Linked DNA regions of Homo sapiens. The protein of the gene in region 2 purifies or fractionates together with the protein of the main gene of each other region. This does not show direct contact. Each region holds a gene or a part of one and is shown on either strand. Other genes may lie near its edges. The genes, in order: BZW1, B3GAT1, USP24, CASKIN2 and DPH6.

Region 1 (6,379 bases), on a different chromosome or scaffold from region 2:
CTAGGTCAGCTACTGGTTATAAGTTGTGTTTTTCTTTTTCTTCCTTAAGTAGCAGACATTTTGAGATATATATTGTAGAATTTTAAAATCACTAATCATAGGCTGTCTGTCCCCTTGTAGTAGTGGTGGGGAGACCAAAGTGTGATTTGATTCTAATCTTTGCAGATTCATTTAGATTTAGCTGGTAAATTTTCTTAAGGAGCTGGAGTTGTAAACTAGAACAGTTTGGCAGTAAAATGGGAAAGTGTATCTCTTGAATATGTGGGTTACTGATGTTACCTTGATACAAATAATAGCAAGTAGCTTTAGCATTCTTATTATTAGCATCAGGGAGAGATGTAACTTCCCCGGTTCCAGATAGAGATGATTCGTGGCCTGGCTGTTGATGGTTAGGGTACTGGGTAGGGTATACAACACTCCCTGTCTGGGACTGAGGGAGTTTCCAGACACAAGACTTTCAGTGCTAAAACCAGGAAAGTGCTGGGCACTCAGAGGTGTTTGTCACCCTAGTACTGTGTGAACAGATGTCATCTAGCCTAGATTGGGAAAGCAAAACCCTATTATGAAGTGTGTGAAAGCAACTCAGTAAAGGTCAGGTATGTGCACAAGGCTGTGGTCTGGGAGCTTTCTATTTTATTAATGTCATTTGGTATTTACAACAACTTTATGGGATAGGTACTATTCTTATCCCCATTTTACAGTAGGGGAATTCTGGCATGGCGAGTGAGACTATTTGCTTGAATTCAGGTGGTTAAATGGTGGTCAGGATTTGAATCAGGCAGTTTAACTCCAGAGCCCATGTACTGAACTACTACACAATATAGTCTCTTGATTACCTAATTTCTCTGACTCTCAGTTTTCCTTCTGAATAATAGGGGGAAAAATCTGCCTCACAAGGTTGTTAACAGGATTAAAGCAAATGCTTAATATAGTTTCTGTCATTGGGTGCTCATTAAATGTACTTTCTAAAGCTCACCTTCATAAATGCCAAAGGATTGGTTCAATTTTTTTGTTTGTTTAATATTATGGACATTTAAGGAAAAGGATCAAGAGCTCCAGTGTCTGGACAAAACCCAAAGGAATAAAATGTACCTGTTAGAGGATGGCCTAAATTTTGGAAAAGCCAAGAGGCAGTAGGAGGGCGTTCCCAGTAGAAATTGGCTTATGGCAGTAGGAACACAAGACACTAGCACATTTAGATCACTTGTGAAATTATTTGAAAAGTTGCACAATTCTTGTGAGTGGGCCATCTTGTCTTACACTTGCAGAGGGGAAACATGCAAAGGATGTGAATTTAATCTAACTTATTTAACAATTGCATCTTCATAAGGTGATAGTTTTGTGGCATTTTGGTAAATCTTTTAAAACTAAATGTTTTGGGTCCCTTGTCCCCCCAGATGAAAAAGAGAGGTTTGACCCTACTCAGTTTCAAGACTGTATTATTCAAGGCTTAACTGAAACCGGTACTGATTTGGAAGCAGTAGCTAAGTTTCTTGATGCTTCTGGAGCAAAACTTGATTACCGTCGATATGCAGAAACACTCTTTGACATTCTGGTGGCTGGTGGAATGCTGGGTAAGTGTCTGTGGTTTGTGGGCTTAATAATTTAGAAAGGTATAATATATGGAGATTATGGAGAGTCTAGAATATGAACTATTTGGCAAACTTGTTAAAATGGAGTGATTTTTTTGGTTTTGTTGTATTTTGGTTTTATCCAACTTTAGCCCCAGGTGGTACACTGGCAGATGACATGATGCGTACAGATGTCTGCGTGTTTGCAGCCCAAGAAGATCTAGAGACCATGCAAGCATTTGCTCAGGTAAATGAAACTTTACATAATTGTTTTCAGTTGGCTACTATCCATGTGGTATATTTGAGGAATATTCTACTTTTAAGAGTTGTGGTTAGAAAGTTGAAGGAATTTGATTTTAAATTTTAGGGATACTGTTCTTGGTGCAACGGGATGAATTAGAAACTTAAGGTGTGTTAAGGCGAACAAAATAGGGAAAAATGAAATTAACTCTTCTGTTCCTATTTGTCCTGAAATTACTCAATTTTTAAGAAAAATGTCAAGCTGGAAAAGTCAGTTTCGTATTGTGATTTCTCTAGTTTATCTGCATACATTTATTTTTAAAGTTAAATGAGTTGTGAGCTGATTAGCTTGTTAATCAAGATCTCATTGGAAAGTTTCATACGTAGTTATGTTTGTGTTACTGTAAGCAAAGAATTAAAGTACATCTAACCTGGACATTCTTATGTGTCACTAGGAATTCTTCTCAAGCTGGTTTAAGCAGCTCATAAACTTACATCGAGTGAAAGGTTTACTACTTTGCTATTCTAGAAATATATGAAGTTACTGAATTCATTTAATGTTCTTCATAGGTTTTTAACAAGTTAATCAGGCGCTACAAATACCTGGAGAAAGGTTTTGAAGATGAAGTAAAAAAGGTATGAGTAATAATGTACTTTGTGGAAAAGAAAAAAATAGGGTTAGAAAGAGGAATGTTAAATCCTAATTCCGCCACAGATTTGGAGTAATTTTGCTTGTTTGTTTGGGTTGTTTTTTGAGACAGAGCCTCACTCTGTGTCCCAGGCTGGGGGTGCAGTGGCTCAGTCTCAGCTCACTGCAGCCTTTGCCTCCCGGGTTCAAGCGATTCTCGTGCCTCAGCCTCCCGAGTAGCTGGGATTACAGGCATGTGCCACCATGCCCAGCTAATTTTCTGTTTTTAGTAGAGACAGGGTTTCACCATGTTGGCTAGGCTGGCCTTGAACTCCTGGCCTCAAGTGATCTGCCCTCGGCCTCCCAAAGTGCTGGGGTTATAGGTGTGAGCCAACACGCCTGGCCCAATATTGCATATAGATGCCCAGAAAACTTGATATGTTTATCAAGCACCAGGCACTGTTCTAATGATACTAATTCACTCAATGTTTATAAAAACCCTGTGAGGCAAGTTTTATTATCCACATTTTACATGTGAGGTGCAGAGGTTAAGTAACTTGCCCGAGATCATTCAGCTAATGAGTATTGTAACTTAGATGTAAACTTGGATGGTTAGATCCCAGAGCCCACGTATTGAACAGGTAGCCAGTATAACATGCTTTACTGCTTCTCTTATTGTAATGCAGTTGCTGTTTTAACCCTTAATTGTTTTACTTTTTACAGCTGCTGCTGTTCTTGAAGGGTTTTTCAGAGTCGGAGAGGAACAAGCTAGCTATGTTGACTGGTGTTCTTCTGGCTAATGGAACACTTAATGCATCCATTCTTAATAGCCTTTATAATGAAAATTTGGTTAAAGAAGGTAATCAGCCTTAAAGGATGGTCTTCAGTTGACTCAGAGTGGGGTGGATAAGAGCATGGTTTACTGTTCATAGATGTGACTTCTGTGAAAGTCTTCGTTTATTAACCAGCCTTAAATTTAATAAGTTCAGTCTAATTCACTAGACATTTAATGAATACCTTTGGCATCCAGGTTTAATGGCTTTCTTTAGGCATACAACAGATACCCAGATTTAGACAAAATGTTGTTATATGTAATAAAAATAAAATGAGAAATGCTGTGGGAACCCCAGAAGAGATTAATACCAATTGGGAGACTTGGAGAAGATGACGTTTGGGGAAAATGTCAAGCTGGAAGGGAAAATCAGTTCCCTGTTTGGCTCCAATTGTCGGATTATTCTCTACAGTAATTTTTTTGAAGCTTTTTTTTTTTTAAAAAACTGCTTGCAGTAGTGAGTATTTAAGTTACCTTACTGTAATTCTCACAACAGTCTTGTCAAGTGTAGAGACTGTTGCCCTCAATTTATACTTTGGAAAACACTTTAAGTAACTTGGCCAAGAATATACAATTTGCAAGTGGTAGACTAGGGAGATTGGAGAAGTGATAAACTGTGGCCCAGGAAAGTTCAGGGTTAAGTTTGTGAGGAAAGTCAGTAATCCCATGTGATTGAACTATGAAGGGAAGGATATAGGGGGACACAGTGATTGAAACCAGGGAAGGTACTTCTGTTAATTAAGCTATTTTCTTTTACAGGAGTTTCAGCAGCTTTTGCTGTGAAGCTCTTTAAATCATGGATAAATGAAAAAGATATCAATGCAGTAGCTGCAAGTCTTCGGAAAGTCAGCATGGATAACAGACTGATGGTTGGTAACTTTTTTTCATTCTTCCCATTCTTGCCAAGGATGTAAATGAGAGAAATTTCTCATTTTTAAGACTGTGAAAAGAAAGTGTTTTTCTTAATCTGATTTAAAGAAAGTTTAACCAGATAAATTCTTCTTTTAGGAACTCTTTCCTGCCAATAAGCAAAGTGTTGAACACTTCACAAAATATTTTACTGAGGCAGGCTTGAAAGAGCTTTCAGAATATGTTCGGAATCAGCAAACCATCGGAGCTCGTAAGGAGCTCCAGAAAGAACTTCAAGAACAGATGTCCCGTGGTGATCCATTTAAGGATGTAAGTTTTTGTTTAAACCGTCTTTTTATGGCTAAGCTTCTGGCATAGAGATTTTCACTAATTTGAGGAACTTACTTCACCAGGATGAGATTGAGTTAATAGTAACAGGATGTTATACTGGAACTTTGCCTCATTCTTTTGCATATGCTTCTTCAGTGCCTGACTGAGGCCCAGAAATACAAGAGACTGGAGCTCAGGGCACCTTTCAGTTGTAAAGGTCTCTTTTTATATGTGGTACACATGTGGTTGCCAGTTGCATGGAAAAGGAGTTGTTAGTTTTTGTTAAAGGTCTAAACTTGATGTGTGAAGTATGTACATAATCAAAACTGACTTCTGTTACTAAATTTGGATTCATTTGCAGATAATTTTATATGTCAAGGAGGAGATGAAAAAAAACAACATCCCAGAGCCAGTTGTCATCGGAATAGTCTGGTCAAGTGTAATGAGCACTGTGGAATGGAACAAAAAAGAGGAGCTTGTAGCAGAGCAAGCCATCAAGCACTTGAAGGTATTAGAACTATGCCTTGACAAAACAAACTATTCTGCTTTCACGTGGTGATAAGTGAACTGTGACTATATTTTTCTAAGAGGATTTATCACATCCTGTGGTTCCTAGGGATGGCCCACCAGTAAATAAACAAATAGTAACATTAGCTATTGATGATAATGCTCTGAATTGGGCTGTGGTTCACAGGTTAAAAACAAGAATATGGCCTGGCCAGGCACAATGGCTCACGCCTGTAAACCCAGCACTTTGGGAGGCAAGGGCAGGAGGATTGCTTGAGCTCAGTTTAAGACGTGCCTGGGCAACATAGTGAGACCTCATCTCTACTAAAAATCACAAAAAATAGCCAGTCGTGGTGGCGCATGCCTGTAGTCCCAACTACTCAGGAGGCTGAGGCAGAGGATCTCTTGAGCCCTGGAGATCAAGACTGCAGTGAGCTTATGATGGCTTTGTCAGACAAAGCCTGGGTGACAGGGTGAGATCCTGCCTCAAAAAAAAGAACATGATGAAAAGGAACTTCAGCTTGTAATTAGATGTTTGCTTTTGAAGGGGGTATTGGAAAATAGGAATTTTTCCCCCCCTCTAAAATACTAATATTGTTTGACATTTACTTGGACTACTTGGTATAGTATTGTTTATTTTACTTAGCTACTTAGATTTTCTGCTTTTTTTTTTTTCTCTTGAGACAGTCTCACTCTGTCACCCAGGCTGGAGTGCAGTGATGTGATCTCAGCTCACTGCAGCCTCCATCTCCTGGGTTCAAGCAGTTCTGCCTCCTCGGCCTCCCAAGTAGTGCCTGGCTAATTTTTGTATTTTTAGTAGAGACGAGCTTTTACCATATTGGCCAGGCTGGTCTCGAACTCCTGACCTCAAGTGATCCACCCGCCTCGGCCTCCCAAAGTGCTGGGATTACAGACGTGAGCCACTGTGCCCAGCCTATTTTTTAAATTTCTGGTAAATAAGTTATAGTTTGCAGTGATTATAAAAGATGAGTTAAGTTCTATATTGTCTGTATTGTAGGAGTTTTGTAATGGATGGTTATTTGTAATGAATGACTAAATCTTTTCTCTGTTCCTTTAAAAGCAATACAGCCCTCTACTTGCTGCCTTTACTACTCAAGGTCAGTCTGAGCTGACTCTGTTACTGAAGATTCAGGAGTATTGCTATGACAACATTCATTTCATGAAAGCCTTCCAGAAAATAGTGGTGCTTTTTTATAAAGGTAATTTAGATTTTGAATTTTGTAAATAACACTTAATAAAAACCCTTATAAACACAAAATTATCCAAATGATGAGTTATCTGGACATCAGCTCCCTGAAATATTTTACTTCTAGTTATGAGTCACCTCTGATTAAATTGGGTGCTTTTTAGTGCACTGATACTTGTTTAAAACATCTAAACCCTATTCACAAGTTGAAGTAT
Region 2 (6,114 bases):
CCCATTGGGCCCCACTTGCCGCCTGGGGGTCCAGATGGGGACCGTCCCTGGGGTGGGTGGGCCATGATCCTGGCCTCATATTCCCCTCCTGACCCCGACTTCCCTTCAAATGTCTCTGGATTGGAAGTGCCCTGGAGAGGACAGTTCAAATGCAAATTCATTCTCATGCTGGTGGGCGGGGGTAAGAATCTGCCAGGCAGTCAAGGGCGCTCCATATGAGTTAACTGCGGGGTTGAGTTTTGCTTCACAAACTACATCTGGCATCTACTGCCAAAACCAAATTATCTCCAGTAAGAGTCAGAAAGTCAAGTAGCACACACATCCCCGGCACAGCGAGAGCTCTGGGAGCCCCGTGAAGGTGGGCTGGGGGATGGTGAGCCGTGGAGCTCACTGAGGCCAGCAGGCTTGCTGCCCGTGTGTGGCTGCCCAGGGGGAGTGCAGGGGACATTCGTGGTGTGCAGCCCAGCAGCTGAGCCGGGTCAAGGGCTTATTAAATGGAGCTTATTAAAGGAAAGCTTGTGGACAGTGGCTTGGGAACAACATGGGGCAGAGTCCCTGGTTTTGCCCAAACTCACCAGTTCTTCTGGAACTGCCTCGGAACGACAAGCATGGGGCTAAGATGTGGATGAGACTCGGGCTACTTGGGTGTGGCCTGAGCCACCTGCAGGGTCTTCTGCCCCGCTTTACCTGAGTGTGTGCTTCTGCAGAGCTGTGTATGAGCTGGTTCCGTCAGAAAGTGATGGAATGGAAGGGAACCTTCCTGCAAATCCTCCTGTAAGGTGGAGAAGCCCCTTGGATCACACTTCCACGCAGACCTGAGCAGGACACACTGTGGTTTCCTAAGGTGAGGTCTTCCTACACCAGCTTCTTATTCTCACCCTTATTTTCTGCCAGTTAATTGCTCAGCTTCTCTATCAAAGTACCTCTTGGCAGAGCTTATTCTCCAGCGTTGACTAAAGATGTTTCCATTATCTTCCACACGGTATGGCCTCATCTAGGTCTCTTTGGAGAATCCCTCTTCATATCCAGCCTCTGAATGCTGGGGGTCTCTGGCCCACTCCTTGGGCTGTTTCTTTCCTCTGTCCACACTCACTGCATAGGGTCTCACCCGTGCACCTGTGGTTTGTAAACAGGTTGGACACCCGCGCCCGCCGATGCTGGGCTGCACCTGAGCTCCAGGTGTGTGGGGGCGCATTTTCTTCTGCATGTGTCTAACAGGCACCTGACACAGAGCTCCATTTCCCCACATTACCCCTCCTGCACGCAGCCCTGTATCTGGAAATGGCAGTGCTGTTCTGTGTCTCGGGCTATTTTGGACCCCTCTCTTTATCTCCCACATCCAATCCAGCAGCAGATCCTCCTGGCTCTGCCTCCTAAACTTGGCCAAAATTTGACTGCTTCTCTCTGCCCCAACCCCATGCCCCCACTCAGCCCACTGCATCTTGGCCTGGATGATTCCAGGAGCCACGTCTCCACCTGCCCTTGCCCTCTCCATTTATCCTCCGTGGAGGAGCAGGGCAGTTCTTCTTAGAGATGGATAGATTATGTTAGTCCTCCGTACTGGACCCCCTATTGCCTTCTGGTTTCACCCGGTGCCTGGGGACTCCCTTCTCCCACGCCCACCACATCCCTCACTGCTGTTGCCCCCAGCAGCCCCCGCCCCGTCAGTTGAGCCCGATGGCCTTCCTGCTGATCTGTAAGCAGGCTGAGCAACGCTTGTTCCGCCTGGTGGAGAGTTCGTTCTTCTTGGGCCCGGGGAGCTGCATGTCAGGGTGTTGCTGCTTCGCTCAAGGGTCACTTATCACGGAGGCCTCTGTGGTCACCCTACAGAGCACTGACCCTCTCCACTGCTACCTCTGTCTCCCCGACTCACCCTCATCCTCCATACAACAGATTGCATCTGAAATAATATGCATTCGTTATTGCCTGTCTCCTCTCGTCAGTGGGTCAGTTCTTTGAAAATGAGAGCCTTGTTTTCTCACTGCTGTGTGTCGGCTCCTAGAATGATGCCTGTTCATAACAGGCACCTGATACATACTTGTTGGGTAGCTAAATTAATAAATGAGAACAAAATAAGGCAGGGCTGAAGAGGATTAGGACTGTTAAAAACTGTATTTGACTTTTAATTTTGAAAGCAAATTAAATACAGTTAAATTAAAACAGACCAGATGCAGCTGCCTGGGTGCCACCCTCACCCCAGCCTCTGTTCTTAGAACTCCTAGCCCCTGGCCTCACTCCTGTGTGGTGGGGCTTGCCAGCGAGGGAGCAGGGAACAGACTGGGTTTGGAAAACAGTGGTCATCATGGACCCATTTCTGATTTATAACAAACTCATTCCCAATAAAGATGAAGGCTGCAGTCCACCAGGGTTATAATTATAAATAAATATACATGCAGCTAAAAGAGGATATTAGGTGAAAACAACTGACCTAGCATCTGCCCAAAGAAGTCCCCATTTTGTTGTTCATTATCAAAGTCCTGAAAATGAACCCTAGGTTTTTGGCTAAGAAGGTGGCCTCAGACCAGCCAAGCTGACCTTGGCACTTGGCTGGCTTCTGTGAGGCAGTAGAGTGCCCACACATAAGCTCACCACCTGTGCCCACCTCCTCCCTTCTCTCCCATGCCACCCCACTTGCTTCCAAGGGCTTGGTTTCCAAAGTGACATCCAGGGTGTAAGAGGTTGGGGAAAACGTCCTGCAAGGTGGCTCAGGGATCTGATTCCATCAGATGGTCTCATGAATACTGTGGGAGATTAAATCCATCTCAAAATAGGCAACCAATGCTATATTCTGAATGTTAGGTCTCTGGACTGAGTCCCACCCACCCACCCACTCAGGAGTGGGTTCTGAATGGCCCTCAGACCTCTCCTGGTGAGTCTTAATGGGGTGGGAGGCTGTTAGTTAAAAAATAAACACCTCTTCAGTAGGCTGGGGCCCTTTCCTTTTCCTCCACTTGGGGGGAAAATTGTGCTTCCAACTTGCAGGAGAATGAGCCGGATCACCACTAGAGAGCCCGGCTGGGCCAGGGGGTCAGAGCCCTTTCCAGTGGGCCCCAGAGGCCTGGGGAGGGCAGGAGTTTGAGGCACACTGTTCTTTCTCCAGGATGGAAAGTGGACAGCTGGACATGAGGTGGGCTAGCTCTGCATGCTCCTGACTTAGGGAGAAATAACATTTTCTTTCCCTTTTTTGTGTTTAGAATAATTTCCAAAGCAGTGTGCTCAGGCCTCCCTCCTGCTCAGTGTCCCAGCAGCCCCTGCCCCCTCTTTCCCAGCCCCTCTGCTACTCCAGAGTCCCTCCTCCTCAGACCAGGGGCAGGAGGGAGTTAGGGAATGGCCTTGGCCTCCCTCCTCTTTCCAGGCTGCAGGAGGTCCCACCTTGCCCACCACCCACCGCCTTGCCCACTGCCCACCATGGGCTCACTCCACCCTGAGGTCTGTGGCTCTGAAGAGCTGCAGGAAAAGGCGCTTTCCCTCCCCAGTCCAGTCCAGGCGAGGGGCCTAGCAGCCGAGGTGGGCGGTGGGGAGGCAGTGTGTGGACAGTGGGGCCGTGGGGTTCTTAGTCCAGGTCAGGCAGTGACCTGTGCTGGCTCTAGAGCCTACCCCTTTGCCACTGCTGGAGGAGAAGGGGTAAAGGAAGAGGGGCCGGAGGGGGGGACTCTGCTCCCGCCACAGCCTGAGGTACAGGGGGTGCCTATTAGGCCCAGGCTCCCCCCATGCAGGGCTGGGTGCCTGTTGGGATCCAAGACAGCCTTATGCTCTGTAAACGTGAACCAGAGGAGAGCCACAGAGGTATGTCTGATTTGGGGGCAGCTCTCGGGAAGAGCAGGGGCCCAGGAGAGGAGCAGAGCGCTCGTGATGCCCGTGGGCTGCTCTCTGGTCTTCAGAATTCCCTGGCTGGGTGTCCTGTGTGGTCGTGCTGAGCCCAGGGACAGGGAGCCAGGGAGGGCCATGCTCCACTTGACTGCGGGGTCTTCTTATCTCCCTCCCGCCCTGCATCACTGCAGGGCCAGTGTGGGCGCCCACTGCACCTGCTCCTGCAGCCCCGTCAGTGCGGGGAGCTCTGGGGAGGTGCGCTGGAGCACCAGCTTGGCTGGTGCTGGACACCCCACCCTGGCCATCAGGTCTCTCGGGCCCTGGTCACGCTGGATGGAGAGAACAACAGGTCTGGGATTTCTGTGCTTAAATTCTCTGTCCTTTGTTCTGGCATCAGGCTGGGCTCTCTCAGAAGCCCCCAGAATAGAAAGGAGGGTGATGGTGATTCCTTAGGAGTCGGCCTTGGAGGGACCATCAGCCGTGGGGAGAGGATGGAAGGCCAAGAACAGGGTCTGAGGAGGAGGCTCCTGTGAGGGGAGAGGAGGAATGAGTGAGGTGTCGGCTGAGGGTGGGGCCGGGGAGGGAATGGCCAGGCAGGGCCACCAGGACCTCTGCAAAGCCCAGGCCCCCAGGTCCTGTGGGGGCCTTTCTGAGGGGCAGGTGGGGAAGGTGCTTCCAGTGAGGGCAGTGAGGGCAGGAGGCAGAAGTGAGGCTCGGTACAGATGCATTCTAAGTGGCGCTGGCCAAGGTGACTGAGTGACACCCTGTGGTCCTCTGCGGGCAAACACAATACAGAAGCTATTGCTTAGCTCCAGGGCAAGAGGACAAATGTCTGTCTCAGGCCTCAACCTCTGTTTGGCATAACCTAGAGTAGGGAGTCAGGAGTACCAGCTGCTTTTAAGAGACAGGATAAGATCACAGAAAAGCCCCTGAAAATGCCTGGCTTTGCCAACCACCCAGCACAATTCACTCGTGCCAGTGTGTCACCTTGGAACATTCATTTAGCTTCTCTCAACATCATTTCTTTGCTTCTGAAGTGTAGGTGGATCCTGTGGCCTACTTCCAGAGAGGGCTTTAAAGACTTGAATAAAAATAGCCACACTGATGAGATTTAAGTGCCATGAACTGTTCTAGGTGCTCTCAGCAACCTACTTCACAGATGAAGAAACTGAGGCCCAGAAAAGTCAAGTCAGGTCAAACAGTGAAGAGCAGGGGTCCTGGGAGCTGAGGTGGGCTCTGGGTCCGTGCTGTCACTCTGCGCTACCTCTCACTATGACAGCCGTGGGCTCATTGCTGTGGAGCAGCGAGTCCGTGAGTCCTCACCATGGCCACGTGGTGAAGGAATCCACAGGGGAAGAGGCAGACTTGGGGGGACAGACGCTGGCCAGCGAGAGTCTGAATGGCAGTGCCTTGTGGGGTGCAGGCGTCACTGCCAGCAGAAAAATCAGCAAGATGTTTGGAAGGTGACACCCTCTGAAGAGTCTGGTGGCAGAAGGACCCAGCTGCGTGGGTGAAAGTTAATGCCTGGATACTTTCAGGTGGCCCAGTGGGAAGGGGACTGTGGTGACGACGCCCTCCACTCCTGCCCACATCTGCCCTGTCCTCCACAGTGAAAGCCCAAGAGGAAAAGAATGAGACAGTTGATTCGGCCCAACCTGGTGCCGCCCTGCCCAGTGTGTGGCCCACCCTCGTCATGCCCATACCTGCATCCTGAGGCTCAGATCTCCACCGAGGGGTCAGTGAAGCCCTTCTTGCCCTCATTCACCAGCACTGGCTTCTCTGTCCGTGTGTGCCACACCAGGATCTGTGTGCCCAGAGATGCAAAACATGGTGGGACAGGCCCCTGACCTCACTCTGCTGCCTCCCTGCTCCCTCCCACACTGTGTAAACATTTCTCCTGCCCCTCCTTTTCCTTCGAGAGTTTTTCAATTGTTCCATCAAGATTTTCTCAATTGTTTTTTATTTATTTTCTGTGGCTCTCGACTACCCCCTCATTTTTGCTGTTTTTACATGTGATGCCTTCGGAATACCTGCTGGAAATGGGAAGTCTAGAACTACAGAAAAGAGAAGCCCCAAGACTTCCCAAGTGTGTGTGTGTGCATACGTATGCATGTTCATGTGCATATGTGTATATGTGCATGTCTGTGCATGTTCACCTGCATATATGTGTGCATGTGTGTGCATCTGCATGTGTGTGTGCGCACATGTGTGCACGCGTAGGCATGTGTGTGTGCATGAGTGCTCAGCAGGGAGGTGCTGGAGCACGGCTGTTCTGTGGGAGGTTATAACTCCCCAGTGGCCATT
Region 3 (6,379 bases), on a different chromosome or scaffold from region 2:
TTTTACTCAGCTTTTTGGTTAGAGATTTAATAGTCATGTTTAAACTGAAATTCTTACCAAATTTTGAAATTTCATAGTTTGAAAGATGCTATTTATTAAAAAGTAGTTCTCTTTATAAAGAGTATTACACAAACAGTAGACTTTTTAGATCTGTACTATGACGATCTGGATTGTCATATACCAGTTTCAGAAATAATATATTTGGAAGTGTTTTGAAAAATGTACAGTGTAAGTGTAAAATGTCTGTAATAATAAAAATAGAATTACCTCTTATGAAAGTGTTTTAACTAGGAAATACAGATTATGAATATTTTCTTTAATATTTAGACCACTACCAGTGTCTTGATCATATCATTGGTATCCTAGTCATATAATCATAGAAAGCAATATTCTTACTCCATTTTACTTACCATGCAGTTCAGTGTTATCCAAGTTAAGCTTTGGCCATCAGTTTATTTTGTGTCAACATGACTTAGCAGCCTGTGCTACTTAATCTATCCTCTGAAGTTGCTAATTCCTTGTTGTCTGTTTTTTGCTGATGTACCCCTGTACATTTACTGTCACTTCACATCCACTCCTGTTTGCAGTTCTTAGCTTTAGGAAATTGCATGCAGAATAAGAAGTTGAAGACTGAATTATGAGTGCATGGAGATAAGCTCTAAATGGTCAATATAAAGAGTAAAATAATAAAATGTGTAACAGTAAACCTGATTGACTTGAAATTTTTTATAGCTAATAAATGAATCTGCTGTTTATTTCTAAATTTAATTAATGTAACTTCTTTTTAACTCTAGTCATCTCAGCTTAATAATCCCCAGTTTGTATGGGTGGTACCAGCTTTGCGTCAGCTCCATGAAATTACTCGCTCATTCATAAAACAAACCTATCAAAAGCAAGACAAGGTAAGGGTATAGCTATTTTTTATTATTATAGTTACTTGCATAACTTTTACAATAACAAAACATGGCTAAAATTGCTGAGTTTATAGTCACTATCTTTATGTTTATTGATGTAATTCACTTATATCATCTAATAATCTTGAGTTTAAGCATCATTCTGCTTTCATTTCTGCAGAGCTTTTTTTTTTTTTTAATCTCCTTAACTCATTTTCTTTTTATTTGCTTAATTTTCAAATAGTTAAGCCAGTTTTTAAAAGTTAGAATGGCATTTTAAAAATTGGTTTGAAAAGATTAAAAAGCTTGTTGCTTGTTTTGTATCACAAAAAGATTAGTTTGCTTAAAGTACTAGAGTTTCCTCAATGTATAGACTTGGGAAGGATGATCCAGAAAAGTATACAGGAAGTGAAATAGTTATTTTTATAGGCTTTTTAAAAAAATAAATAAAATGAATATTTTTAGATGGAAAACATTAGTAGTTTATTAATTTTCTAGTAAATGTACATACCAGATTGATTTTATTTACTTTTGTGTAGGAAATACGAATGAGGAAATTCTTATGTTTGCTTTGTCTCATCTAGGACTACATCTTTAAATAGCAGCTTGTATTAAACCAGCAAAATAACTGCAAATTCTCATTACCACTTTTCTTTTTGTTATTTTCGCCAAGAGCATTATTCAAGACTTGAAGAAGAATTTTGAAATAGTGAAATTGGTAACGGGAAGTTTGATCGCTTGTCATCGGCTTGCAGCTGCTGTGGCCGGGCCTGGAGGCTTAAGTGGCTCGACACTAGTGGATGGCCGGTACACTTACCGGGAGGTATCAGGCCTTGTGTTTTTGCTTCATGATTTACAACATTAATTTGACCTTTTTATACTTATACTATAAAAAGAATTTTTGTTAGCTGTAACTATAAAGAGGTTGTATGAGGTATCTTTGTAGTGAGGGAACAGTTTTGTATCTTGGTGTTTGTGAGTTATCTTTCATATGATGAAGGAATAAACATCTTTTTTTTGTCTTTGATCTGAAATAATAATTGCTAATTCAGTGGATAATGGGTTTTGTTTTTCAAATCAATTGATTAGTAACATTATTGTTTTTTAAAAAATTAGGAAAAAAATCTTAACTCACCAGTTGTGAGTTTGTAGTGTTTTACTTTGAGATTGCTGAAATTACATTTTATTGACATCCAAAATCAACTGAATTTCTAATAGACTTGAGATAGATAGCTTCTATTACATTGTACTATCAATTTGTAAACAGAATTCTAATATTTACTTTACCCTAAATTATATGAAAAAGGATTAAGTAAAACTGTTGTTAAAACTTAAAGTTTTGTTTTGTTTTAATGTTGCTTTTAGGAATGAATGCCTGGAGTTAACTAATTAGCATTATTTCTTTTTGCAGTATTTAGAGGCACATCTAAAATTTCTAGCGTTTTTCTTGCAAGAAGCTACTCTGTATCTGGGCTGGAATCGTGCCAAGGAGATCTGGGAGTGTCTTGTAACTGGCCAGGATGTTTGTGAATTAGATAGAGAGGTAAGAAGGTGGTATTGTGGATAAAGTAAGGCAGAAATATTTAAATATTTCACTTTTTCTGTGTGTCTCACATCTTCTAAACACTTTTCAGTTTATATAAGCATAAATAGTATGGGCCAAGAACTGTAAGTGCTGAAAAAATGTTTTATATAACATATATTCATGATAAAAATAAATGTATGAGTTCTTTGGTAATTTTGATACCATTCTGGATAAAATACCAAATTTAACCAAATGAGTATAAAGAATTCTAGATATATTTAAGTTTTTTCCCTTCCATATGAAACTAATTTTAAGTTGCCAACAGAAAACTTTGAGTTCCTATAATGATGTTGCACCCCAAAAACAGTAAAGAAGAATTAGTACCTGGCCACATTTTTTTGTAAACTATAATTAAGCAGCCAAAGATAGATTAAATCAGGAACAGAACACCTGCCTTGACATTTTCTAGGAGTAAATTTCATTTTCCTCATCTTATTTGACAGAATAATATTAACTACTTCCTAGACTTGTCGAAAGGCTTCACTATTGTGATAGTGCCCAGCATAGTGCCTGTTGTAAGCAGGCAGTAAATGTTGATGGAAAAACCCAAGTATAAAATCCAGTGAAAAGTATGAGTAGATATTTTTATTATCTAGAAGAAAGATTGCTAGTAACTGCTTCATTTAATTTCAGAATTCCAAGCATTTTAGCTTTGAGTGGTATTTTGACAGTATAAACATTTGAAGTATTAAAATGTATCTTTACTTTTCCAGTTTGGAATATGTATGTGCCTGAAATGGATCTTAGTTATAGGGTGATATTCGTCTTATTCCACAGATGTGTTTTGAATGGTTTACAAAAGGACAGCATGATCTTGAGAGTGATGTTCAGCAGCAGCTCTTCAAGGAGAAAATTCTTAAATTGGAGTCATATGAAATCACTATGAATGGTAGGAAAAAACTTAAAATCATTTTTTTCAGTACTTTTAAGTAAGAAGTGTTATTCTTTCCTTTACTTTTAATCCTCCTTCTCAGAAGCAACTAAACAGTTAGGAATATCCTTCTAGAATTTTTCTTGTGCATCTAAAGACATATTTAGTACTCAAATTCCTTTCTACATGAATGGTATCTTATAATTAGTTTTTAAATCATATGGCCTGCTAGATCAAATTGCCAAATTGTCTTTTTAAAATTTCTTAGTACAAAAGGGTTCATTAAGGTAAAAATGTATCAAGGTATAGAAATCCTCCTTTCAGATGTTTCTTTTCATTGAATTTTTAAATTGAGATATAATTTACATACCATGAAACTCACTTTTTAAAGTGTACAAATGGTGGCTTTTAGTATATTCACAAAATTATGTAACCTTCACTCTGTTCCAATCCCAGAACATTTTCATTACCCCAAAAATAAACCTATACCCATTAACAGTCACTTTCCATTCATTTTATCCAGCCTCTAATCTATTTTCTGTCTTTATGGATTAGCCTAATCTGGACATTTGATATGAATGGAGTCATACACTGTGATCTGTCGTCTCTGGCTTCTTTCATTGTACTAAGGCATAATGTTTTCAGGGTTCGCCCAGGTTGTAGCATGTATCAGTACTTCGTTCCTTTTTATGGCTTTATAATATTCCACTGTGTGGGTATACCATATTTTATTTATCCATTCTTGAACTAATGGACATTTTGATTGTTGCCACTTTTTGGGTGTTACGGTTAATACTGCTGTAAACATTCATGTACAAGTTTTTCAGTGGGTACGAGTTTGCATTTCTCTTGGATGTATATCTAGAAGTCAGATTGTTCTGACATATAATTAACCTTTCAGGAACTGTCTGTTTTGCAAAGTGCCACGCTATTTCGTAATCCCACCAGCAATATATGAGGGTTCCAATTTCTTCACATCCTCAACAATACTTGTTATTATCTGCCTTTTTTTATTTTAGACATCGTAATGGGTATAAAGTGGTATCAAAATTTAATGGGTGTTTTTTTGGTTTGTTTGTTTGAGATGGAGTCTTACTCTTGTCGCCCAGGCTGGAGTGCAGTGGCACCATCCTGGCTCACTGCAACCTCCACTTCCCAGGTTCATGTGATTCTCCTGCCTCAGCTTCCCGAGTAGCTGGGATTATAGGCGCATGCCACCATGCCTGGCTAATTTTTTATTTTTAGTAGAGACAGGGTTTCACCATGTTGGCCAGGCTGGTCTCAAACTCCAGACCTCAGGTGATCCTCCTGCTTCAGCCTCCCACAGTGCTGAGATTACAGGCTTGAGCCACCGCACCCGGCCAAATCTAATGGTTTTAATGTGCACTTCTCTGGTGACTAATTATATTAAGCATCTATTTATATGTGCTTATTGGCCATTTGTTTATATTCTTTAGAGAAATCTTAAAATCTTTTGCCCATTTTAAAATTGGTTTGTCTTTTAATTCTTGAGTTGCAAGGGTTCTTTATATATTCTGGGTACTAGCTCCTTATCAGATAGTTGATTTGCAAGTATTTTCTTCCATTATGTGAGTTGTCTTTTCACTTTCTTGTTAATGTCATTTGAAGCACTTAATTTTGATTATATCTGATTTACTAATATTTTCTTTTGTTGCTTCTGCTTTGGTACCATATCTAAGAAGCCAATGCCAAGAGTCTTATGGTTTTAGTTCTTGATCCACTTTGAGTCTTTTCATTGATTATCTGTGTTACGTAGAGTACATGAATTTATTTGGCATTCTATAATTACAGGTTTTAACTTATTTAAAACTTTTTTTGAAAATGTGAATCTTTGTGATCATCGATTGAAAAGACAAGGAGCTCAGTTGGTAAGTACGTTATTCTCAAATCTAGATAGTTTGGATAATCTAGTATAACTTGATATTCAGCAAAAAAAAAAGTGTTATAATTGAGAGATAACATGGATTTTTTTGGTAAAGAACAGCATCTCCTTGACTGCCAGCTTCTATGTTGATGACAGAGCTTCTCCTAGTGTAAGGGAGGCTCCTACCTGCACTACCATGCCTCACCAGCTACCTGCGAGGACACTGCTCTCTCTCACATCTCTCTGTTTCTGGCTGATCTAGGGACAGCCAGTGGCCTCCTGTGGCCACATGAATGCAGAGCAGGGATAGTTCACCTAAGCTTCGAACTCCTCAGATCCAGCAATTCACATGTACCTAAAAAAGCAAGAACAGTCTTCGTCCTGGGATCACAGTGGCAGGGATTTGGGGAGAAAAATTGAGGAATAGACAGTGAGGCAGGAAAACTAGGATGTACAGCTTATGTTTATATTTACACATGCTCCTTTAAAAAAAAAAAAGGCTTATTAACTCTTTTTCCAAGTCCTTTTTATTCAGGACATGGCTTCCTGGGTGGTTAGAATTTTTACAAGATTTTACAAGCCCTGGGTCCTACTGTTTACTACTGAGCTTTAGAAAGACCAGATTGAGCCCCAAGAATTAGTGACCACTTCTGGCTTGACTGTTTCCTTTTGAAGAAAAGCTCCTGAAGATGGTGCCCATCTCACTCCTGCTCTATTTCTGCTTCAGTAGCCTGTTGGGCTGTGTGTCCAGTTTGGGTCTAGGGATGTCTGAAGAGATATCTCTGTACCTATCCTGGTTCCCGTGGAATTTGCCCAGTGCTTCTGTGGTTGGTTGCTTTTTAAAGTTCCATATCAGTATAATATTATTTTCATATAGCTGAGGTTTTGCAGCCTTAATTCATATTGAACTGAAGAGGTGTGGACTCATGATGTAACAAAATAATTATCTGTGATTTTGTAACTTTGTGATCTTGATATGCTTTATAATTTAATTTTTTTTCTTTTGAACAGTATGTAGAAAAGCTGGAATTGATAGGAATGGATTTCATTTGGAAAATAGCCATGGAATCACCTGATGAAGAAATTGCTAATGAAGCTATTCAGCTAATCATAAACTATAGTTACATTAATCTAAATCCTAGATT
Region 4 (5,767 bases), on a different chromosome or scaffold from region 2:
CACTGCCCTTTTCACCCGGGCTCTCCATCTCCCAGGCCCCCAGCAGTCAGCACCCCCTCCTACGCCACCTCCCCCGTGACTCCCCCCGTCCACTGCAGGCAGCTCCTGAGAGCTGGGATCGAGATCAACCGCCAGACCAAGACGGGTACGGCGCTCCACGAGGCCGCACTGTATGGCAAGACCGAGGTGGTGCGGCTGCTTCTGGAGGTGGGTATGGGCCCCTGCTCCCTCGCAGGTGTCCATGGAGCCTCTGCCCTGTGCCCCTGACTGGCTGGGGAGGTACGGGACGGAGGACTCCAGCGTGGTTTTTGCATGGGCGTCAGGAAAGAGGCCTGACTTCCTTCTGAATGGTGCCGAGGCGGTGCAGATGGATCGGGGGCAGACCAACCTGATTGGCACCCCAGATCTGCCTCTTACTAGCTGAGTGAACTTGAGCTTGTCCTTGACTGAGTCCCTGAGCCTCTATGTCCTCATCTGTAAAATCGGAAAATGGTAATAGTACCTATGTCCCGGGTAGCTGAGAGAATCGGGTGAGGGGTGTCAAAGTGCTTAGCGTGTGCTCATGTGACACTGTGCACCCAGGGAGGTGTGGACGTGAACATCCGGAATACGTATAACCAGACGGCGCTGGACATAGTGAATCAGTTCACCACCTCCCAGGCCAGCCGGGAAATCAAGCAGCTACTGCGGGGTGAGTGCGGGGGAGGATACCCTGCCCAGGGGGCCTGGGGCCGCTCAAGTGGTACCAGGATGTGGAGGGGGAGTGGACGTCCCTGGGGGAGGGTTGTCAAGGGCATGAGGGGTGGGAAGATGCCCTAAGGACCCTTAGATGACACCTGTCCCCCACCCCGTTTTCTTAGAGGCCTCAGGGATCCTGAAGGTCCGAGCGCTCAAGGATTTCTGGAACCTCCACGATCCCACTGCTCTCAATGTCCGGGCAGGGGATGTCATCACGGTGAGGGACCCCAAGCAGGCATTCCTTTGCAAATACAAATGATTGCTGTTACTTATTTGGGCACCTGCTATGTTACCACGTTCTGCTCTGAGGTCTCTATATGCACCCTCATTTAATTCTTCTTAAAGCCAGGGAAGGCAGTGCTGTTAGCATTTCTTCTTTACAGATGACAAAATTGAGAATTAAACAAAATAAAATCAAGAGAAATTCAAGTGACTTGCCCAAGGTCACACAGCTAGCAAGTAGTGGAGCTGTGATTTGACCACGGGCTGCCACTGGGGCTCGCCCTGGAGGCACAGGGGAGATTGAGCTGGCTGCTGGCAGCAGGGGCGGAACTTGGGCCAGTGTGGGCATCAGAGGCCAGCTCCTTAGGGGTAGGGAAAGAGCTGGACCAGGGTTGCCGGACCGCAGCTGCAGGGACAACCGTTTGCCACTTGCCTGGTGCTGGGAGTGACCGTCCCCGCCCCCCACCCCTGGCCGCAGGTGCTAGAACAGCATCCCGACGGCCGCTGGAAGGGCCACATCCACGAGAGCCAGAGGGGCACAGACCGCATAGGCTACTTCCCCCCGGGCATTGTCGAGGTGGTCAGCAAGCGGGTGGGCATCCCTGCAGCCCGCCTCCCCTCCGCACCCACCCCCCTGCGCCCAGGCTTCTCCCGGACACCGCAGCCTCCTGCCGAAGAACCCCCGCACCCTCTTACCTACAGCCAGCTTCCTCGGGTGGGCCTCAGCCCAGACAGCCCAGGTACATCCTCCCAGGGGGCAGTGCTGGGCACTGTGTGGGCGTGTGGCCTGGGCAAGCTGCCAGACAGCTGTCAGAGCGACACTTGGGACTCTGACCCCTTGGCTTCTGCCCCCCACAGCAGGTGACAGGAATAGTGTGGGCAGTGAGGGCAGCGTGGGCAGCATCCGCAGTGCCGGCAGCGGGCAGAGCTCTGAGGGCACTAATGGCCATGGCCCTGGCCTCCTGATTGAGAACGCCCAGGTAGGATGATGGGGTCACGGACCAGGTCAGGGCTCACTCCCCACTGCCAGTTCCCCAAATGCTGAGTTGGCTCCTGCCCTGTCTCCTCCAGCCACTGCCCTCTGCTGGAGAGGACCAGGTGCTGCCAGGACTCCACCCGCCGTCCCTGGCAGGTAGGAAGGGTCAGGGGACCTGGGTTGGCTAGGAGAGGTGCAAGTAAGGAGGCCGAGGGTGGGCACCCCTTCCTCCTGCCACCTTTCCATTCCATTTTTCTCTCTCCTTGAAGACAACCTGAGCCACCGCCCTCTGGCCAACTGCCGCTCTGGGGAGCAGATCTTCACCCAGGACGTGCGGCCAGAACAGCTGCTGGAGGGGAAGGTGTGACCTCCACGGGGTGCACCGTGGGCCTCGGGGGGGAAGGTGTGACCTCCACGGGGTGCACCGTGGGCCTCGGGGGGGAAGGTGTGACCTCCACGGGGTGCACTGTGGGCCTCGGGGTGGGTAGGGCAGGGTAGAGGCAAGAGCCTCTGTATGGACTGAAGCCCCGCTCAGGCAGGTCCTGAGCCCCTGGTGGGGGCTAGGGCCTTGGTCCAGCTCCTGCTAATTCTGCCCCCTTCCCCCACCCCGCAGGACGCGCAGGCCATTCATAACTGGCTAAGCGAGTTCCAGCTGGAGGGCTACACTGCCCACTTTCTGCAGGCCGGCTATGATGTGCCTACCATCAGCCGCATGACACCTGAGGTGGGTGCTGCAGCCGGGAAGCAGCACCCAGCGGGCGGGGGAGGGCCCAGCAGGCGGGGGAGGGGCCTGATGGCCAGACTTTGTGTGGCAGGACCTGACGGCCATCGGGGTGACCAAGCCTGGGCACAGGAAGAAGATCGCCTCAGAGATCGCTCAGCTCAGCATCGCCGAGTGGCTGCCCAGCTACATCCCAGTGAGCCATCAAGGGTGGCTGGGGAGTGGGGCACGTGCTGTCACCCTCAGCTGTGGCTTTGCGGTGCCTTTTCTCCTCTGGCTGGGGGCGGAGGCTGGCTGGGAGTTGTTCTGAGGACGGTGCTCTTCCAGACGGACCTGCTGGAGTGGCTGTGTGCACTGGGGCTGCCACAGTACCACAAGCAGCTGGTGAGCAGCGGCTACGACTCCATGGGGCTGGTGGCCGACCTCACCTGGGAGGAGCTGCAGGAGATTGGGGTCAACAAGCTCGGTAAGGACTGTCCTGAGGCCTGGCTGGGCCCCCACCTGCCTCCGGGGTCTCCAAGAGAAGACAGTATGGGGCCCAGCGGTGACCAGGACAACCCCAGCCCCAGCTAACCTTGCCACTTCCGTCCCCCATCTCAGGGCATCAGAAGAAGCTCATGCTGGGGGTGAAGCGGCTGGCGGAGCTTCGGCGGGGCCTGCTGCAGGGGGAGGCCCTCAGCGAAGGCGGGCGCCGGCTGGCCAAGGGTCCGGAGCTGATGGCCATCGAGGGACTGGAGAACGGAGAAGGCCCAGCTACAGCTGGCCCACGGCTCCTCACCTTCCAGGGCAGCGAACTAAGCCCAGAGCTACAGGCGGCCATGGCAGGGGGTGGCCCTGAACCACTCCCCCTCCCACCTGCCCGCTCTCCCAGCCAGGAGAGCATCGGGGCACGCTCACGGGGGTCTGGCCACTCACAGGAACAGCCTGCCCCACAGCCCAGCGGTGGAGATCCCAGCCCCCCCCAGGAGAGGAACCTCCCAGAGGGCACAGAGCGGCCCCCTAAGCTTTGTTCTTCACTTCCTGGCCAAGGACCCCCACCCTATGTTTTTATGTACCCCCAGGGCTCACCCTCTAGCCCGGCCCCAGGGCCACCTCCTGGCGCACCCTGGGCCTTCTCCTACTTGGCCGGGCCCCCTGCCACTCCCCCAGACCCGCCTCGACCTAAGCGCCGGTCCCACAGCCTAAGCCGCCCTGGCCCCACAGAGGGGGATGCTGAGGGGGAGGCCGAAGGGCCAGTGGGCAGCACCCTAGGCAGTTATGCTACCCTTACCCGGCGGCCAGGACGCAGTGCCCTTGTCCGGACCAGTCCTAGTGTGACCCCAACCCCAGCTCGGGGGACTCCTCGCAGCCAGTCCTTTGCCCTGCGGGCCCGGCGCAAAGGCCCCCCGCCCCCGCCCCCCAAGCGCCTCAGCTCCGTCTCTGGCCCCAGCCCGGAGCCACCTCCACTAGATGAGAGCCCAGGGCCCAAGGAAGGGGCCACAGGGCCCCGAAGGCGAACACTGAGTGAACCTGCTGGCCCCTCAGAGCCCCCTGGCCCACCTGCCCCGGCTGGGCCCGCGTCAGACACGGAGGAGGAGGAGCCAGGCCCTGAGGGGACGCCCCCATCTCGGGGCAGCTCTGGGGAAGGGCTGCCGTTTGCAGAGGAAGGGAACCTGACCATCAAACAGCGCCCGAAGCCCGCTGGCCCCCCGCCCCGAGAGACACCCGTGCCCCCCGGCCTCGATTTCAACCTCACGGAATCAGACACTGTTAAGCGGAGGCCCAAGTGCCGGGAGAGAGAGCCACTGCAGACCGCACTGCTGGCCTTCGGAGTGGCCAGTGCCACGCCTGGCCCCGCTGCCCCACTGCCTTCCCCAACTCCTGGCGAGTCTCCTCCAGCTTCTAGCCTTCCCCAGCCCGAGCCCAGCAGCCTTCCAGCCCAAGGAGTTCCAACCCCCCTTGCTCCCAGCCCCGCCATGCAGCCTCCAGTGCCGCCCTGCCCAGGGCCAGGTCTGGAAAGCTCAGCAGCTAGTCGGTGGAATGGGGAGACAGAACCCCCGGCCGCCCCTGCTGCCCTCCTCAAGGTGCCCGGAGCAGGTAAGAGGGGAGGCCTGTGGGAGAGTCACTGCTGGCAGGGTTGTGTCTGACCCAGCCAAGTCCCAAGCCAACCTTTTTGTCTCTGCAGGAACAGCCCCCAAGCCTGTGTCGGTGGCCTGCACCCAGCTGGCATTTTCTGGCCCTAAGCTAGCGCCCCGGCTCGGCCCCCGCCCAGTGCCTCCTCCACGGCCTGAGAGCACTGGGACTGTGGGCCCAGGCCAGGCCCAGCAGAGACTGGAGCAGACCAGCTCGTCCCTGGCAGCTGCACTGAGAGCCGCAGAGAAGAGCATTGGCACCAAGGAGCAAGAGGGGTGAGGGGGGCCGGATGGGGAGGGAGAGAAGGCTGCAGAGAAACAGTGCTCCCTGCATCCTCTGCCCAGGGATCATGGGGATGTTGGAGGGGGACATTGCAGGCACTAACGGGATAAGAGGCCAGGTGTTGAAATCACCTAGATCAGGGAATCCTGGTGGCTACCATTTAAGAGGCACAGGAGCCTGGCCGGTCCCTTGCCTCCCTGAGCCTCTGGGAGCTATGACAGCTCCCTGCCCCAGGGCCAGTGGGGTGCAGGCCACTGGCTGATCTGACCGCATCCTTCCCCTTGCTGCAGCACCCCCAGCGCCTCCACCAAGCACATTCTGGATGACATCAGCACCATGTTCGACGCCCTGGCTGACCAGCTGGACGCCATGCTGGACTGAGCCCTCCAGCAGTGCCCACTGTGACCTGCCGAAGTCCACTGCCTTTGCCCCAGCACAGAAGAGGCCCCTGCCACCCTAGGGACGGGCCAAGGGCTGGTCAGGCTGAAGTGCCCCTCCTAGCAGGGCCCCTTCCCACTCAGCCCGCGGCTGTGGGCACCACAGCTCTTGTGGGGCAGCCCACCTTAGAACCTGACTAGCGAGGGACCTCCGCTGCATCTCAGCAAAGCCCCTCCCAGGGTTTGATCGATTGAGCAGGACAGCCCTGCTCCTGGACAGGGACCCTGGTAAGAGCTCTCTCCTCAGGGAGGAAGTAGGGGTGGGGCTTTGGGGGTGCT
Region 5 (6,379 bases), on a different chromosome or scaffold from region 2:
TATTTTCAGTAGAGATGGGGTTTCACCGTGTTAGACACAATGGTCTCGATCTCCTGACCTCGTGATCCGCCCGCCTCGGCCTCCCAAAGTGCTGGGATTACAGGCCATAGGTGGAATCTTTAAGTAGAGCTATACATCACCAATTTCCCTTCTCTCCAGAAAACACATCCAGAGTGTTCTCTCAACATCAGTTAGGTGAGCATCAAATTTGAGAGAGATATCCAAGACAACAACTCAACTTTAGCAAGAATGGAGTAGCTTGGTATTTACCACGGAGAGATACCAAATACCTTATTATTTTCTAGCTCTGAGGCTCTGCCATGGAAGGTCACATGGTTACAGCTCTCCACAGAACTTGAATTCACTTATAATGCCTTTCTATCTCTTATACGTCCCCCCCCGCCATTTCCATCTATTACCTGTTTTGACCCACACCCTTTTCCCCATGATTGGGCTAACTGGCTCAACGGTTGTATTATAAACCCACAGGGACAGTAAAACAGCAGCCTTGTTAGCACTTCTCCTTGGCAGATATTACAGGATTTGACAGATAAGAATCACAAGACACTTGGCTTGTGTTTATGGATAGGCCTTAATTTGCCTACACAGAGTGAAGTTATCCATACCCCTAAAGGCCTTTAAGAATATGCACTGTCAATGTAATGTATTGATATTGTGTTTTGTGCATTGACAACACTTTCCTTTGGTATGTGCAACTTTAAACTCGAGCCTAGGACCATTGGATCAGGCAAAACTAACAAAAAAAAAATCTACGAAATGGGAAAGATATATAGTTGTGTACTTGCCTCCTCCCCCATCATCTCATTCCTATATCGCAATCCTAGAAAGCTTATAAGTAGAGTCCTAGCATTATTTCCTTTCATAGTCAATGTTACTACACCATCATTTAACTGAACAAACTAACCCTTAAACCAGTATAGTTTTTCTAGTGATCAATTTAGTTACTTTGCAAACAAATATATCTTTCAAGAAACAGGAGGTTTTCCAGTAATAGGTAAAAGTGGTCTCACGTTTTTCCTTTATCATTTCTCTCTCTTTTTTAGCAACTAGATATATCCTGCTAAAAGCAGTCCAAAGATACTCTTCCCCTCTAGTAAATACCATTAGTGATTTTTTGTTTCTTTGTTTGTTTTTTGCCATGAGGTCTATAATTATATGTTTATAGAAAGATTATAGAAGTTCTTTCTTCTTTCTTTCCAGGAAGCCTACCCCAGTTACTGGAAAGAATGGATAATAGATCTGCTATTTGGTCTTTTTGTTCCCAAAAATTATGGGATTTTCTAATAAATAATATCTCTTGTGACCTTGATAATCAAGATTCACTGTGGAAGAAAGAGTGCAGTGATGGAATACAGAATTATGATAATCCTTATGTTGTCTTGAATTTGATTGTGAAATATCATGAACTCATGAGTCATTAGATATACACATACAGACATATATCATTTCACATTCAAAGAAATCAGGGCTTCCTGAAAAAAAGGATGTTCTAGGTCTGGGATAGAAAATGTGTAAGATGACCACTTCGTGGCAGCACTGTTTATCACAGTGCCAAACTGGATACTACCTATATGTCATCAATAATAGAATGGACAATTAAATTGTGGTGTTAATTAAATTTAATTAAATTACAGTCTCCCACAAGGGAACACTATACTACAATAAAAATAAACACACTATTGCTTCAGTCAATAATATGGATGAGTCCCTTAAAACATTATAATGAAACAAAGAAGCCAGAAATTTTATGAGTTCATTGATGCCTATAAGACATAAAGGTTACATACCATAATTATAAAAAATATATTTGTATGCATTCATGTAGAACTGACCTTTTTCTATTATAAGACCATTTCATAGAAAAATGGTCCACAAAATTTTACTGATCCCTCTCCCCCACAGAAAGGTCTTATTGTCTCATTTTTTTTTTTTTTGCTTAAATCCAAAAAAAGTCCCTTTTTTTTGGCTTAAATCCATTTAAAATTGTTCTGATAATTTTAAATGGGAGGAAAAAGGCTTAGCAACCTATATTGCATCATTTATATGTTTCTATGTCTTCAGAAGTACTGTGCCATTTAATAAACCTTTCTTTAATATTATTCTAAAGAATAACTTTCATCTTTGCACACCTATAGGCAGTCAGCACACAGGCAGTGCTGTAAATGTTAAAATCAGATCTATATTTTTGTTACTGAGATGCCAAAGACAAATCAGCTCAGTTTTTACATTTTACCCAAAGGCTTGATAAAGCTAATTCCCCATCTCTAATCCCTACAGAGAGGCACAGATAGAAATGAAAGAACACACAATATCGGTTATATACTATTAAAAGATGGCAATAAGGTCAAATTCTTTGACTATCTTTTCAATAAGGGAGGTCTCTCTGGGTCCTAATCCAGTCTTTTATCTATCGGGCAGTAAAAGGAATAGTATGTGTACCTTTCAGTGAGACGTCACGTGAACTTCATTATGGAATTATGTAATCTTAGAAAATTCAAAGAGAGAGTGAGAGACAAAGAAAAAGCAAGAGGGAATACTCTGTACAGAGTCACATAGAAATTCATATGACAAATATAATAACGTTAATCATGAGAGCTGCTCAGCAACCTTTTCTCAGAAATAAAAACATAATATCACTCAATCTTTCTTGTTTTAACAGCTAAGGAGATCAACTACAGATTCACTAAATAAAGGCTTCAACTGAAGACAACACCTCAACTTCAGCAAGAATACAGTAGCTTGGTATTTACCATGGAGAAATATTATGGGGTCTGTACTATTTCTCTTAATTTTATTTAAAAACTGAATGTATCTGTAAAATCTTCTACAGCTTGAGACCTTGTTATTTCAGAGATCTGCAAGGTAAACACTTTCAAATGAGGTACATGATTTAGGCTTTGGGAACTCTCAGGTTTCAGGGCATTTTCTATAACAGGTTCACGAAATGAACAGACTGGGCTCAAACCCTACGGTTTCTCAAAAATGAATATAATTATAGAAATTCCAAATAAATTAAATGTGCTCATATGTAATGTCCATACTTGAATCAGATTACCACCTGCCTGCTGTGTCTATGCTAACTAATCAGATAACTTTTTCTCAAACATGATTTTCTCACCATCCCCAACAAAAACCAGTACCCTATTTATTTTTTATAACAAAAACAAAACCATCATTCTATTTTAGCATTATTCAAAATATGCTAAAAAATACAAGGAAAATGTTTTGTGTCAAATACATATTATAAAAAGCTTCCAAAAAACCTCAAAACAAAACAAAAATAACCCTTGTATTTCCTGTTTCCTACAAGCCTAAATTCCAAACCCTAAAAAAAAAAGAACTTAAAATGAAGGACTATAATACAATATCAGTTTTAGAACCTGTTATATGTTAAAAAAAAAAAAAAAAGCCTTACTAGTAATCACTTCGGCAAATGGTCAAAAGACCACTTTAAAACTTCCTTTTCTTTATGCAAGGAAGGTGCTTACTCAATTTCTTCAGCTGTGACTCCACATTTTTATATTCTAAATCAGTTTTCTTTGTTCATTTTAACTACTTATTAGTGAACTGAGATCATCTATGTGGCAACAAACAGCTCCCTTGATAGTTTGGCTGCATACCCAAAGCTGCTACTTTGATGATCATTGCTTGAATGTTAGATGATATCATCTCTCTGAGCAAATCTTCCTGGTTTCTCTGCCAAAGATAAGCTAAAGGCTGGAGATTAAGCCTTTTACACCTACAAAAGAAAAAGAAAAAGAAAGTCAGATGATCTCTTAATGTTTTATACTTGGATCCACAGCAATTACTTTGATTTGAAACATAATGCTTCGTTCAAGGATTTTAGCATTGAAAATGCTTTTAAAAACATATTTTGCATAATGTTTATATATACAACATAAACATATTTAATTTCCATGGGTTATGCATAAACTGATAAAAATGAAATTTCCAGGCACACTAGAAATATTAATTTTAGTAAGACTCTTAGTTTAGAAATCTATGTAAAAGAATTTACAAATGCCAGTATACTCTCATTTTTAAAACTTTCATGGGTATCAAAATTTTGAAGCATATGTAAAGTGGGCCAATAATTTATCCTAATAAAATAGCCACATATTTATTAAATTAACAATAGCTACAGTTATGTGAACTATTCTTATCTACTAACTTTGAATTTTTTTTTAAGAATTTGAATAAAAAGAAAATAGTAAGAAAAAAAGTACAATGCTGCAGGCACTGTACTAGATATTTTCCATTATTGGTAAAGTAGAAAAAATATAGGTTTTGGAGTGAAGACACATCTGAATTTAAAACCTCATTTTGTACTCTAGCTGCATGGCTTTTGAAGTCAAGTAAAATCTAAGTCCTTGTGCTTAGTTTCCTAGTTCATAAATAGGGGCAAAAATAGTTCCTTTCAAAGTTCTTAAGAGGATTAAAAAATGTGAAATGAAATCATCCTTTCCTTTTCTTCGCATTCCACATCCAATCTACCACAATGCAGAATGTGATCATTCCTCACTAACACCACTGCTAACAACCTCGTTTGAGCCACCATTCTCTCTCATGTCAACATCCTAATTTCCTTCCCTGCTTCCACCCTCACCCTTTTAAAATCCATTTTCAACACAGCAGCCAATGTGATCCTTTTAAGACATAAAATAGGACAGGCGCGGTGACTCACGACTGTAATGCCAGCACTTTGGGAGGCCAAGGCGGGTGGATCACGAGGTCAGGAAATCGAGACCATCCTGGCTAACACGGTGAAACCCCGTCTCTACTAAAAATACAAAAAATTAGCCAGGCATGGTGGCGGGCGCCTGTGGTCCCAGCTACTCGGGAGGCTGAGGCAGGAGAATGGCGTGAACCTGGGAGGCGGAGCTTGCCGTAAGCCGAGATTGCGCCGCTGCACTCCAGCCTGGGCGACAGAGCGAGACTCTGTCTCAAAAAACAAACAAACAAAAAAAGAAGACATAAAATAGATCATAGGATTCCTCTGCTCAAAACCCTCCAGTGGCTCCCCATCACTCCATGGATCTCACCCTGTTTAGTTCCTGCACTTTATTTCCTACTACTTATTCTCTTCTCACTCCATCCTACCACTCACTGCTGCCTGCTCATTCTTGCCTATTACACTAGTTTCGTGCCTTTGCTTAAATGTCACTTTCTCAGAGAGGACTATAATTGTTTAATGAATTAAAGGTAATATAGATAATGTAGTACAATGCCTGGATAAAACAGGTATTCAATAAATGATAGTCAAAGCCAAGTGACTTGCCCAAGTCATACACTAACTGGCTGAGATCAGATTTCAAACCAAGAATATAGCTCTAAAACCCAGTGTCTATAAGGTTTATAAGTAAAACCCAGCGTCCCTAGCATCTGTAAGGCTGCTTGGCCGACTTCTCTGGCCTATATTGATCTCTCTCTCTCTCTCTCTCTCTCTCAGAGATCCCAATACTTATTAAATGTACCATGTTTGGTCATTTATTCATACATGGCCTTAAAAATATCACTATTTTTTTCATTTACATATACCCTGACTTTCAAAAAACCAAAACCTTCCTCATTGCAGAGATTGTTGCGTGTAATTTTCCCTTTTAAAATGTCTCAGAACATCTAAAGCAATGCTGAAGCAGTTAATAAATACAAAAAGAATAAAATGTGAACTACCCATGTAATACAAACATAATTGCAGAATGTAAAGTGTTTAATAGATGTCACAAGTTCAAATTCAGCAGTGATTTACAGAGTAAGTTTATTTGAGCCATGATATTTTGAACTGTTAAAGAACTTAAATAGGTTAAAAAATTTTACTTAAGTCTATAGTCAAGAGATTTTGAGGAATTTCAAAGCAACAACCACGAATTTTACGATAAGGACAGGAAGAAAAAACTTTTTGTCCATAAAAAAATAAATCTTAGTTTAAAAAGGTAGAGAGGCTGTTTTGATTAGTAGGCATTAAACACTGGGTGAGAGGACAGCAAGAACTAGTAATAATACAACACAAACTAAAATTTGGGCATAGGCTAATTCAAAATTGAGTTTGTGGACCAATGGACTCCCAGTAACATTACTTTTGAAGTTTCAAGGATAAAATAATTGCAGATATGCTTTATAATATAACGTCTGTTCATCTGTTCAACCGTGTGTTGAAGTGTACCAGTGATTGTGTTTTGAGAAAGTCTCTACCCATGGGCATGACATGTGCCCTTCTTCCATATATATATACACATATATGTAATGGGCAGCCTCCTAATCAGGAGCACATTTTTATTTGGCTTTTTAACTTTCATAAATAGATGTCATCCCTATCTCCAGTTTGGCTACCCATTAAAGCCTGTGGGTTTGAACTTCT

What was found.
Region 1: the proteins of B3GAT1 (region 2) and BZW1 purify together in Homo sapiens (affinity purification with mass spectrometry; one large-scale study listed by BioGRID and IntAct). This does not show direct contact.
Region 3: the proteins of B3GAT1 (region 2) and USP24 purify together in Homo sapiens (affinity purification with mass spectrometry; one large-scale study listed by BioGRID and IntAct). This does not show direct contact.
Region 4: the proteins of B3GAT1 (region 2) and CASKIN2 purify together in Homo sapiens (affinity purification with mass spectrometry; one large-scale study listed by BioGRID and IntAct). This does not show direct contact.
Region 5: the proteins of B3GAT1 (region 2) and DPH6 purify together in Homo sapiens (affinity purification with mass spectrometry; one large-scale study listed by BioGRID and IntAct). This does not show direct contact.

Annotation. Positions count from the first base shown.
Region 1 is NC_000002.12:200,813,944-200,820,322, forward strand, and holds part of BZW1 (eIF5-mimic protein 2), read left to right. Parts: intron 1-1,397; coding exon 1,398-1,574; coding exon of another isoform or gene 1,575-1,580; intron 1,581-1,723; coding exon 1,724-1,818; intron 1,819-2,381; coding exon 2,382-2,447; intron 2,448-3,162; coding exon 3,163-3,298; intron 3,299-4,030; coding exon 4,031-4,140; intron 4,141-4,279; coding exon 4,280-4,450; intron 4,451-4,811; coding exon 4,812-4,958; intron 4,959-6,038; coding exon 6,039-6,177; intron 6,178-6,379. UniProt on the Homo sapiens protein: Translation initiation regulator which represses repeat-associated non-AUG (RAN) initiated translation probably by acting as a competitive inhibitor of eukaryotic translation initiation factor 5 (EIF5) function.
Region 2 is NC_000011.10:134,376,411-134,382,524, forward strand, and holds the end of B3GAT1 (galactosylgalactosylxylosylprotein 3-beta-glucuronosyltransferase 1), read right to left. Parts: intron 5,615-6,114; coding exon 5,528-5,614; 3' UTR 5,514-5,527; intron 5,408-5,513; exon of another isoform or gene 4,345-5,407; intron 4,338-4,344; 3' UTR 2,098-4,337; downstream 1-2,097. UniProt on the Homo sapiens protein: Involved in the biosynthesis of L2/HNK-1 carbohydrate epitope on glycoproteins. Can also play a role in glycosaminoglycan biosynthesis. Substrates include asialo-orosomucoid (ASOR), asialo-fetuin, and asialo-neural cell adhesion molecule.
Region 3 is NC_000001.11:55,142,986-55,149,364, reverse strand, and holds part of USP24 (ubiquitin carboxyl-terminal hydrolase 24), read left to right. Parts: intron 1-794; coding exon 795-902; intron 903-1,566; coding exon 1,567-1,716; intron 1,717-2,304; coding exon 2,305-2,436; intron 2,437-3,255; coding exon 3,256-3,367; intron 3,368-5,161; coding exon 5,162-5,238; intron 5,239-6,245; coding exon 6,246-6,379. UniProt on the Homo sapiens protein: Ubiquitin-specific protease that regulates cell survival in various contexts through modulating the protein stability of some of its substrates including DDB2, MCL1 or TP53.
Region 4 is NC_000017.11:75,500,745-75,506,511, reverse strand, and holds part of CASKIN2 (caskin-2), read left to right. Parts: intron 1-98; coding exon 99-207; intron 208-582; coding exon 583-691; intron 692-860; coding exon 861-955; intron 956-1,438; coding exon 1,439-1,700; intron 1,701-1,818; coding exon 1,819-1,940; intron 1,941-2,031; coding exon 2,032-2,092; intron 2,093-2,205; coding exon 2,206-2,297; intron 2,298-2,549; coding exon 2,550-2,660; intron 2,661-2,751; coding exon 2,752-2,853; intron 2,854-2,984; coding exon 2,985-3,123; intron 3,124-3,257; coding exon 3,258-4,733; intron 4,734-4,821; coding exon 4,822-5,044; intron 5,045-5,341; coding exon 5,342-5,432; 3' UTR 5,433-5,767.
Region 5 is NC_000015.10:35,447,044-35,453,422, forward strand, and holds part of DPH6 (diphthine--ammonia ligase), read right to left. Parts: intron 3,761-6,379; coding exon 3,642-3,760; intron 1-3,641. UniProt on the Homo sapiens protein: Amidase that may catalyze the last step of diphthamide biosynthesis using ammonium and ATP. Diphthamide biosynthesis consists in the conversion of an L-histidine residue in the translation elongation factor (EEF2) to diphthamide.